2 separate regions of the Homo sapiens genome follow, and region 1 is linked to region 2. Evidence: fine-mapped expression QTL. Tissue or cell type: prefrontal cortex. Region 2 holds a variant in brackets; the other region holds the start of a gene. All regions are shown on one strand. Distances are between the middles of the regions.

What was found. PIP is the estimated chance that this variant, and not a neighbour inherited with it, causes the effect. A credible set is the group of variants that fine-mapping cannot tell apart.
Region 1: it holds the start of GJD2-DT, and the variant in region 2 is the best candidate, but not a certain one, in a credible set for the expression of GJD2-DT in prefrontal cortex (BrainSeq, PIP 0.64).

The regions. Positions count from the first base shown.
Region 1 is chr15:34,753,363-34,757,760 of GRCh38, reverse strand. It overlaps GJD2-DT (GJD2 divergent transcript), which reads right to left and starts at 2,677. Exons shown (of 3, transcript NR_120329.1): 1 at 2,540-2,677. It overlaps GJD2 (gap junction protein delta 2), which reads left to right and starts at 2,763. Exons shown (of 2, transcript NM_020660.3): 1 at 2,763-3,343; 2 at 4,389-4,398. The coding sequence starts at 3,273.
Region 2 is chr15:34,812,291-34,816,688 of GRCh38, reverse strand. GJD2-DT (GJD2 divergent transcript) reads right to left here. Exons shown (of 3, transcript NR_120329.1): 3 at 3,766-4,398. Among named protein-coding and RNA genes, the nearest start is that of ACTC1, 19 kb to the right of the region's middle. The variant A/G (reference allele first, on the strand shown) is at 2,530.

The DNA.
Region 1 (4,398 bases), 59 kb after region 2:
CCACTTTAATTCCCCTTTTCTTCTTCAAATATCACATTTTTTTCATACTTTTAAATAATTTTGATCTTCTCTAGGATTCTGAATACCACATTCTTCATAGCTTTTCCTTTGCTACCCATATGATTTTAGGCAAGCTAGCTAAGCTTTGGGTCAGTTTTAACACTATGAAACAAATGGATGATAGATTTCCTCATCCCTAGGATTCACTCCTGCCCTAATAGTCATGGAACTAAAAGTTCTCAGGTTTTTATTGTTATTGGAGCTGTGGATGAGAACCCGTTAATAACACAGCTACCTCAATCTTGTTTCCATAGATTTCAATTTAGCAGAATTGGGATGGGATCGCAGCATCTGTCTTTTTAATGAAGATCCCCAGACAGTCTGTTGTGCAGCAAAGGTTATTCTATGAGCATTCTACGAATTTCATTGTTTCTCATCCAAAACTATTATTTTAATAAACAGAATGGCTTTTAAATAAGATGTAATGGAAAGAACTTCCCAGCTGCCTTAAACGGGGGTTTTCAATCAGAGGAGAGTTGAGATAATCAGAATCTATCAAGAAGATACAATGCCCTGAGGAAACTGAGAGATGCCCGGATCCACAGAGAACCATTTCACATTTAATGCACATTTGTTTATCGGAACAAATTATTAATTGAAAATGGAGTTGACTGGACTTGAAGGAGGAAGTACAATGTAGTAAGTGTGAAATTTATGAGTGGTTATTAAAAATAAAAATGGTTATTTCTGAAGTGTGGTGGTGAGACTAAGATTTTTATTTAAAAGTAGCCTACACAGTCCAACTGATGAGTTTTAAAATATAGGTTCTATATATATGCGTCTTTGTGCACTTATACACCTATGTTGTTTGCACATGTTTATATGTGGAATCTATATGGCATATTAAAGTATATTTCAAAATAATACACAAATGATCAACAATTCAGTCATAGCGTAGTGTCTGATAATTGCATTTCCTGCAGTCTATGTTCTTAGGATCATAATCTTTAACGGTTTGGGAAAGCCAACACATAAAATGACAATTTTGAGTTGTGCAGCCTATTTTGGGACATTTAAAGATGTTAAACAGATTTCCCTTTGGACTTACTCATTCACTTCTTGGCTAAGATCATTTACTATAAGAGAGTCTGCCAGACAAGGAGGGAATACAGGGACCTAGGGCCAAGGGGAGTAGAAGGGAAACCTGGGAAAACACACCAAGTTTGGGTTAGGGGATCACCATTCCATCTGGAAGCTAACTGGATAATAGGGTATCCATTCGTCCTCACCCTTGAACCTCCTCCGTGTTCAGAAGGAAACTAATAAATCACTTTATCCCTCTCTCCATTGTTAGTGGACTCTTTTACTCCTTTGCAGTGAAAGGCTGCTTTCTTGGGGTAAAGATGTCAACCCTAGCAGAGGATTTCAGTGATCTTTCTGGCGGCGAAGCTTAGACCGTGTGTTTAAACATCATTTTATGAAGAAGTACACTGTGAGTGGACTGAGGGCCATGCCCTGCACCTTTCTTCCCAGTCCCTGGGCCACCAACTACCCAACCACCTCGGTTGTTCCAGAAGTGAAGGCTCACCATGGTGTGGCTTATGTAATATACATATGTGCTATGATCCCTGTGGATAATTAAGGCTAGGTCCCTTTATATGCCTAGGACAAGTTAGCAACCCTTTCAAGGTCGTGTTTTCGAAAGGATGACAATTACTTTCCCATTGGACTTTTGGTACATTTACATCAAACACTGCCAGCTACAGTGTCTCCTAATACTGACCCCTGGGCTAATTAGCAGCTTAGTGAGGTTGTTTCAATTTTTCAGCAACCAATTAAGTAGTTGCTCTAGACAGAACTGACAACACAATGTGAATTTTAAAAACCGGGATCTGCTGGTTGAGGGGAGAAAGCCAAACCCAGTAAGGCAAGTGGGGGCAGGGCGAGGCTGTGAGTGGCTCTGTTTCTGCTAGCAGAATACTGGGTCTTAAATTCAGATTAAATCACAGTTTACCTGACGAGTACCCCGCCCCCCCTTCCCATTAGTAAAATAATAGCAATAATTTAAAAAGAGCCGAGCATCTGGGTTAGTGCAAGGGGAAGCGAGACCTTTAACCATGGCCACCCCACTTGCTCTTTGCGAGGCACCTGTTAGATGCGCTCGTGTGCCCTGACCCCTATACCGAGAGACAGCTCCACACCTGCATTTACCCTTCAGCCTAAATGGATTCCCATCAAGCCTTTCTCACTTCACTGTCGGATCCACAGAGGCACCGAACCGCAGCCACTCTGCAGAAGCACTCTCAGCCACTCTGTCCCCTAAGGGAGATTTAAAAGTGGTCGCCCCCACTCGCCCTCCCTCAGCCAGCATCTCCATCTAGGGAAGGAATTTCAGTTGTCTCCAGGAGGCAAAAAGCGAAAAGGTGAGGGATGCACCGAGAGAAGAGAAGATACCTACTCACTCCCCTCCCCACTCACCCACGCGTCCGCTCCCGGCTCCCCCTCCGCCTGCTTGGGTCTGGCGGTCAGGTGAGGTTACCTGGGCTCCCCGAGAAGCCCCGAGGGGCGCTGCAGTCCTTCCTTTCGAAATCGCCCCGCTCCCCGCCGGGCCTCCAGGACTCTTGCCCCTCTCCCCCCGCGCGCGTCCCCGGCCCCTCGGGCTCCGACGCGCAGCGACAGCCGCACGGCGCGCTCTGCTCCCCTCCGCCGACCTGGCGTGACGCAGGCGGAGACTACTTAAGGGCGGATTAGAGGCGGCGGCCGCGGATCCCCGAGCCCAGCATTCGGCTCCGCGCGCTCGGCCCTGGCCTCGCAGGCTGCCGCGCCGGAGCGCCAGGTGCCCGCTGAAGTAGCAGGAACAGAGCCGGTGTTCGGACCCTCCCCTGGCCCCCAACCTGCGGCGGAGAGCGGCGCTGAGACTTCTCCTGGGCGGGCGAGCGCTGGAGGACCTGCAGGCTGCCACCCCGCCCCGCCCCTCGTCCCGGCGTCCGCGGGATCCAGACCCGAACCCCGGACGGCGCCCGAGGTTCGTGCCCTCTCTCTAGACCGCGCCAACTGCCCCATCGGTCGGGACGCGCTTGGATTTCTTTCCCCATTTCTTCTCTTTTAAGTACAATAAAAGGAAAGGGGGATTCGAGGATTTTTTAAAAAATTGCTTCTTTAATTGGGAGGCAATTCACTCCCATTCTGGAAGTGCGGCCCGGGGAGGGGCCAGGAGCGGGAACGTGCCCGGTGCTGCCCAGTCTTTGTCTGCTGCCTCCGGATGCACAGCGATGGGGGAATGGACCATCTTGGAGAGGCTGCTAGAAGCCGCGGTGCAGCAGCACTCCACTATGATCGGGAGGTAAGGGCGCCAAGCCGGCGGTCAGGGGGCCCCGTCGGGCGGCCCCCGGGAGTCCCTTCTCACACCTGGACTGAGTCTCCCGCTCCAATCCCCAGTCCGTCCTCTGCCTCCTCCCCATCGTCCTAGGTCAAGGCTCCGGTGTTCCCGGCGATGAGGGATTACCCGACGCCCCGCGATGCCCCCCTCCTCTAGCTACTCCTAACCAGCTGCCCATCCCTTCCCCATCAAGCACCACTGGGGCTTCACTCTTCCCACATCAGAAAAGGAGCCGCTGGCTCAGTCTTGGTCCCTCCACTCTCCAGAGTCAGAGCCAATCTCCATTTGGTTCCCTAAATAGAATCTACAAAGAAGGCAGGATTGCATTTGGACAGAAAAGGGCAAATGGGGAGATGGATTTGCTCTTCAGAGCAGATGCCTCTTTTCTCAACAAATAATTACTAAACCAAACTTATTTGGCGGTGTAAACTTACCGAGCCTACACACCCAATTGCCATTTTTGGGTCTGTATCTATATCTATGTCTCTATCTACCTAGCTTTATATATATATGAGTTCAATATATATGAATATATATTCATAGCCATCTGCTTATATAAAGCATTAAATTTAATATTCATGTTGAGAATAAACTAAATATACACATGGAGTAGTTATTTACACACCCTGTGTGTAGACCTCGAAGCATGCACCATCTGTAAAGGTATTCTGTGTGCATTTGCCATATCCAGAGTGAAGGTGTGTTTTGTGTTTCTATACATTCTATATAGAGAGATGAAATCTATCTGTTGCAAGTAGACTATGTCCAGTGTATGGAGATGTGTGTACCTGGGATCTCTATAATATGAAATATTCCCAGCCTACCAGCACTCAGCAGAAAAGGAAGAGACAAAAAGCTTTCCCAGATTCCTAGTTCAGTACCAGCCCGGGATGGACAGCTCCCCAGTCAAAAGACTGGTAAACACCAGCAAAGGGAAGGGAGGAGCAGGGGTTTCCTGTCAGTGACGCAGCCCGTGAGAACCTCTCTCCCTCCCTCTTCCTCCGTTCAGGATCCTGTTG
Region 2 (4,398 bases):
TCTTATTTGTTAAATATCTGAAGGAAATGATGTCCCTTTTTCATATCTGATATTGGTAATATATGCTTTCTCTCTCTTTTTAAATCAATCAGTTTTACTATAAGTTTATAAACTTTATTAGCTTTTTTTTTTCAATAACCTCTACTCCAACAGAGATCATTATTAGCTTTTGTTGAAAGAACAACCTTTAGGCTTTGTTGCTTTTATTTATTTATTTATTTTCTATTTTACTAATTTCTGCCCTTATTTTTATAGTTTCTTTTCTTTGGTTTTCTTAGCTCTTAATTTTTTTTTCCCCTAATTTACTGAGAAAGATTTTCTGTTTATTCATTTGCAATCTTTACTTTTTTTTTCTAATATATGTGTTTAAGGCTTAGTGACATCCTGTAAGTTTTGAGATGTTATATTTTCTCAATTTGGTTTGAAACATTTTCTTATTTCCACTGTAATGTCACCCATATGCCATGGATTATATTGCAAACATCTGGGAGTGTTCTAACTATCTCTTTGTTATTGTTAGAAAAAAATACTCCATATAATTTCTGTTTTTTGACATTTGTTGATACTTGCTTTATAGTCCACTATATCATTATGCTTTGCTAGTATTCGCTGGATATTTGAAATGCATGTGTATTTTGTTGGATACAGAGTATTCTGTGTGTCATTTAGGTGGAATCTTGTGAATATTTGACCCTGTCTTGTGATTCAACTCCTCTATAGTCTGTTTTTTTTTTAATCTTCTGGTTTTGCTTGTAGATTTTTAGATTGCTTCTTTAATTTCTGTCAGATTTTCTCTACACTTTTGAGGCATTTTATTAGATGCATCCAAATTTACTACTTTTATATCTTCCTGTTAGATTGGCACTTTTATCATTACAAAATGTTCTTCTTACTTTCCAGTAATGCTTCCTGTCTTTAAGTTTACTTTGTCTGATATTATTATAATCACACCAGCTTTCTTTGGTTCACATTTGCAGAATATGCCTCTATCTCTCACTGTTTCAACTTTTTTGTACCTTTATATTTTAGGTGTGCATTATATAATTGAACTTTTAACTCCAGTCTAACAATCTCTCTCTTTTAATTAGAATATTAGTTCATTCATATTTATGTAGTTATTATTATATTAGGTTTATATCTACTACCTTGTGTTTATCTATCCAACCTGTTTTAAATTAATTTTTCATTTCTTTGTGATTAAGTAGTTTTACTACTTCACTTTTCCTCATGTTAGTTGTTAGATACACATTACTTTGCTAAGCTTTTGATGTTATCTTAGATAACACAGTTTGTATTCTTGCTTTATTATAGTCTAATATCAATTGGTCCTTTTACTACTTCCCAGAGAATGCCAGCACCTTTGAACACTTTAGCTCCTCTTATCACTGTGCCTGACTTTTGCGCTAGAAGATGTTACTATGTTGCCGTTGGCTTCCACCTTGTTGAGAAGCCATTCTCATTGCTATTACCACTTATTTGATAAAAATGTATCTTTTTCTTTGGCTGCTTACAAGATTTTCTTTTTTTCTCTCATTTTCAGCACTTTCATACGATGTGCCTAGTCCAATTTTCTTTGTGTTTACTCAGTTTAAGGTTTGTAGAAATTTGGACTTGTGAATTAATGTCTTCCTTCATTTTAGAAGAATACTTTTTTTTTGAGATGGAGTCTTGCTGTGTTGCCCAGGCTGGAGTGCAGTGGCATGATCTCAGCTCACTGCAATCTCTGCCTCCCAAGTTCAAGTGATTCTCCTGCCTCAGCCTCCTGGGTAGCTGGGACTACAGGTGTATGCCACCACACCTGGCTAATTTTTGTATTTTTGTAGCGAGGGGGTTTCACCGTGTTGGCTAGGCTGGTCTCAAACTCCTGACCTCAGTAATCCACCCATCTCAGCCACCCAAAGTGCTACGATTATAGGCATGAGCCATGGCGCCCAGCCACTTTAGTAGAATTCTTGATCATTATCTATTCAAATATTGCTTTTGTCATATTCTCTTCTCCCTTTCCTTTTTGAGCTCCAAATGCATGTGTACTAAACTTTTCACCATATTCCATTTGCCTTTTAGCTCTTTACTGTATTTCTTTTGCTCTCTAAGCTTTAGTCTGGATATAGTCTAGTACCTTAAAGCTCACTAATCCTCTTTTCAACTGTGTCAACATGCTTTTAAATTCATCTACTAAGTTATTCATTTGCATAATATTTTCAGTTTAAGAATTTCATGTGAGTCTCCTTAATGGATTATAATTCTTTGATGAAATTACCTATTTGCCATTTATTATCTTGAACATAGTAATCATTAAAAAACCCATAAGCTGTGTATCCGGATCTCCTGCTGGTCACTTTCCATTGTCTTTTTTTTTTTTCCTTGTGATTTTTCAGTGATTTGATCTGGCCAAGTACTTTCTTTGTTACTTGCCAGATATTATGTATGAAAAACTATAGCAATGATTTGAGGCTCTGTACAAGGTTATCCTCCTCCAGGGGATATTTACTTTTGATTTTGACAGACAGGGTACTGCCAATCACTTCC[A/G]ACTAGCCTGGGATTGAGCTGACTCAAAGTCTGTTTGCTGTCAGTCTGTCTTTACTCCTAAGATGTAGCCCTTTGTGGATCACAGCTGAAGGACTGGTCTTTTACCACGGACACTCTTCTTCAGCAGGCCCTATACTCCAATTCTTTCTCTCCCACCCCAGCCCCATGAGACTGCTTACACTGCTGCTCAATTCCTGAGCCTTTGCTGCCAGTTTTTTCTCAGCTTCTGCTCTACTTGGGTCTCTCTCTCTCTCTCTCTGTATCTCTCTCTCTCTCTCTCTCCCCTACAAATTGGCAAATACCACAAGGGAAAAAGCAGCAACAGATACTGGGCTCAACTCTTTGCTTCCCCTCTCTCAGCCACGTTAGCCCCTAAAGTTCTCCCTCCTTTGATAATGTGCCTGTGTTTTCAAAGAACTTGTTTAAAAAAAGTTTATGCAACTTTTCCAGTTGTACTGGGTGGTAACATGCCAGTCCATCATAGCCAGAGTGGAAACTTTTGTCATTGACGTTTAAGTGCTCATTGACAACATTGAATCAGAGGAATTCCTCAAATAGGAATGGTTTCCTGTAAAACTTCACAGTGTCCTATCTCTGTTGAGTCTGAAAATAAATAAATAAATAAATAAATAAATATATAACTGACTTTACTGTGTCAGTAAATTCTACATTTAAAAAGTCTTAATTACTCAGCTGTTTAAACTGAGGAAGTACAACAGGAAGGTCAGAGATACAGCTATAATTTAATTTTATCTCTAAAATGAAATTGTTTGCTTATTTTATTTGTCCAGTTGGGTTCTTGAGCCACTGTAGCAGTACAAGCCACAGACAAAACCCCTCAGACACCGAGATAGGGAAGGGAGTGGCTTTAATCAGCTGGGAGCATCGGCAGGCTAGTGTCTTAAAATCCGAGCTCGTCAGATGCTGAACTTCTGTCCCTTTTAAGGGCTCACAACTCTAAGGGGGTCCGCATGAGACAGTCGTGATCGATTGAGCAAGCCAGGGGGTATGTGACAGGGGCTGCAAGCACCAGTGGTCCGAGTGAAACAGAACAGAACAGGAGGTTTCACAGTGTCCTTCCATACAATGTCTGGAATCTATAGATAACATCAGTTGCTAGATCAGGGGTCTAATTTTAACTACCAGGCTTAGGTCAGGCAGGCCCAGGCCTGGTTTCGGGTCTGGTTCCTAGGCACCAGGCTACCTGCCTTTAGTTTTGCTTTTCTTTCCTTTTCTGAGTATAAAACAATATAAAACAATATGAGAGGGTCTCTCTCTTCCCTCACCACCACATATCATAATGATTTTGATTTTAAGCCAGATTATTATTTTATTTGCCTACTTACGAAAGCTTAAAGGATAGGTTTTATTTTCTCAAACTGTAGACAATTCTACTTGAGCTACTCAAAATAGTGTATTCTAAATTCATAAAAAATAACATTGAGAAAAACACTAGATCAGTCTGAGAAATACGAAAAGAATGATTACTAAATATGTTTAATTTATAGGCATGTGACTCAGACTACAGCTGGGAAACCAGCTCTCCTTGGGAACTTATTTAAAATCTCAGATTCTGTAGCTCTGCCCCCAAGAGATTGTGGTTCCAAAGATTTGAGGTAGGGAGTTTCCAAATGATTTCTTTGTAGGTAATCTCAAGACACACTTGGAGAAACACTGGTTTAGAGAACTGAGTTTAGATTTAATTATAGCAATTCCTCATATCTACTGTGTTCTATTTGTGTTTCATGAAAACAATGAACTGGAGTTTTAAGAATTTCATTACATTTAATTCTTAATATAATCACTATCCATAGTAGCTCATATTTGTTGCACTAGTATAGTATAATAGTGAAGTATATGGGCTTTGGA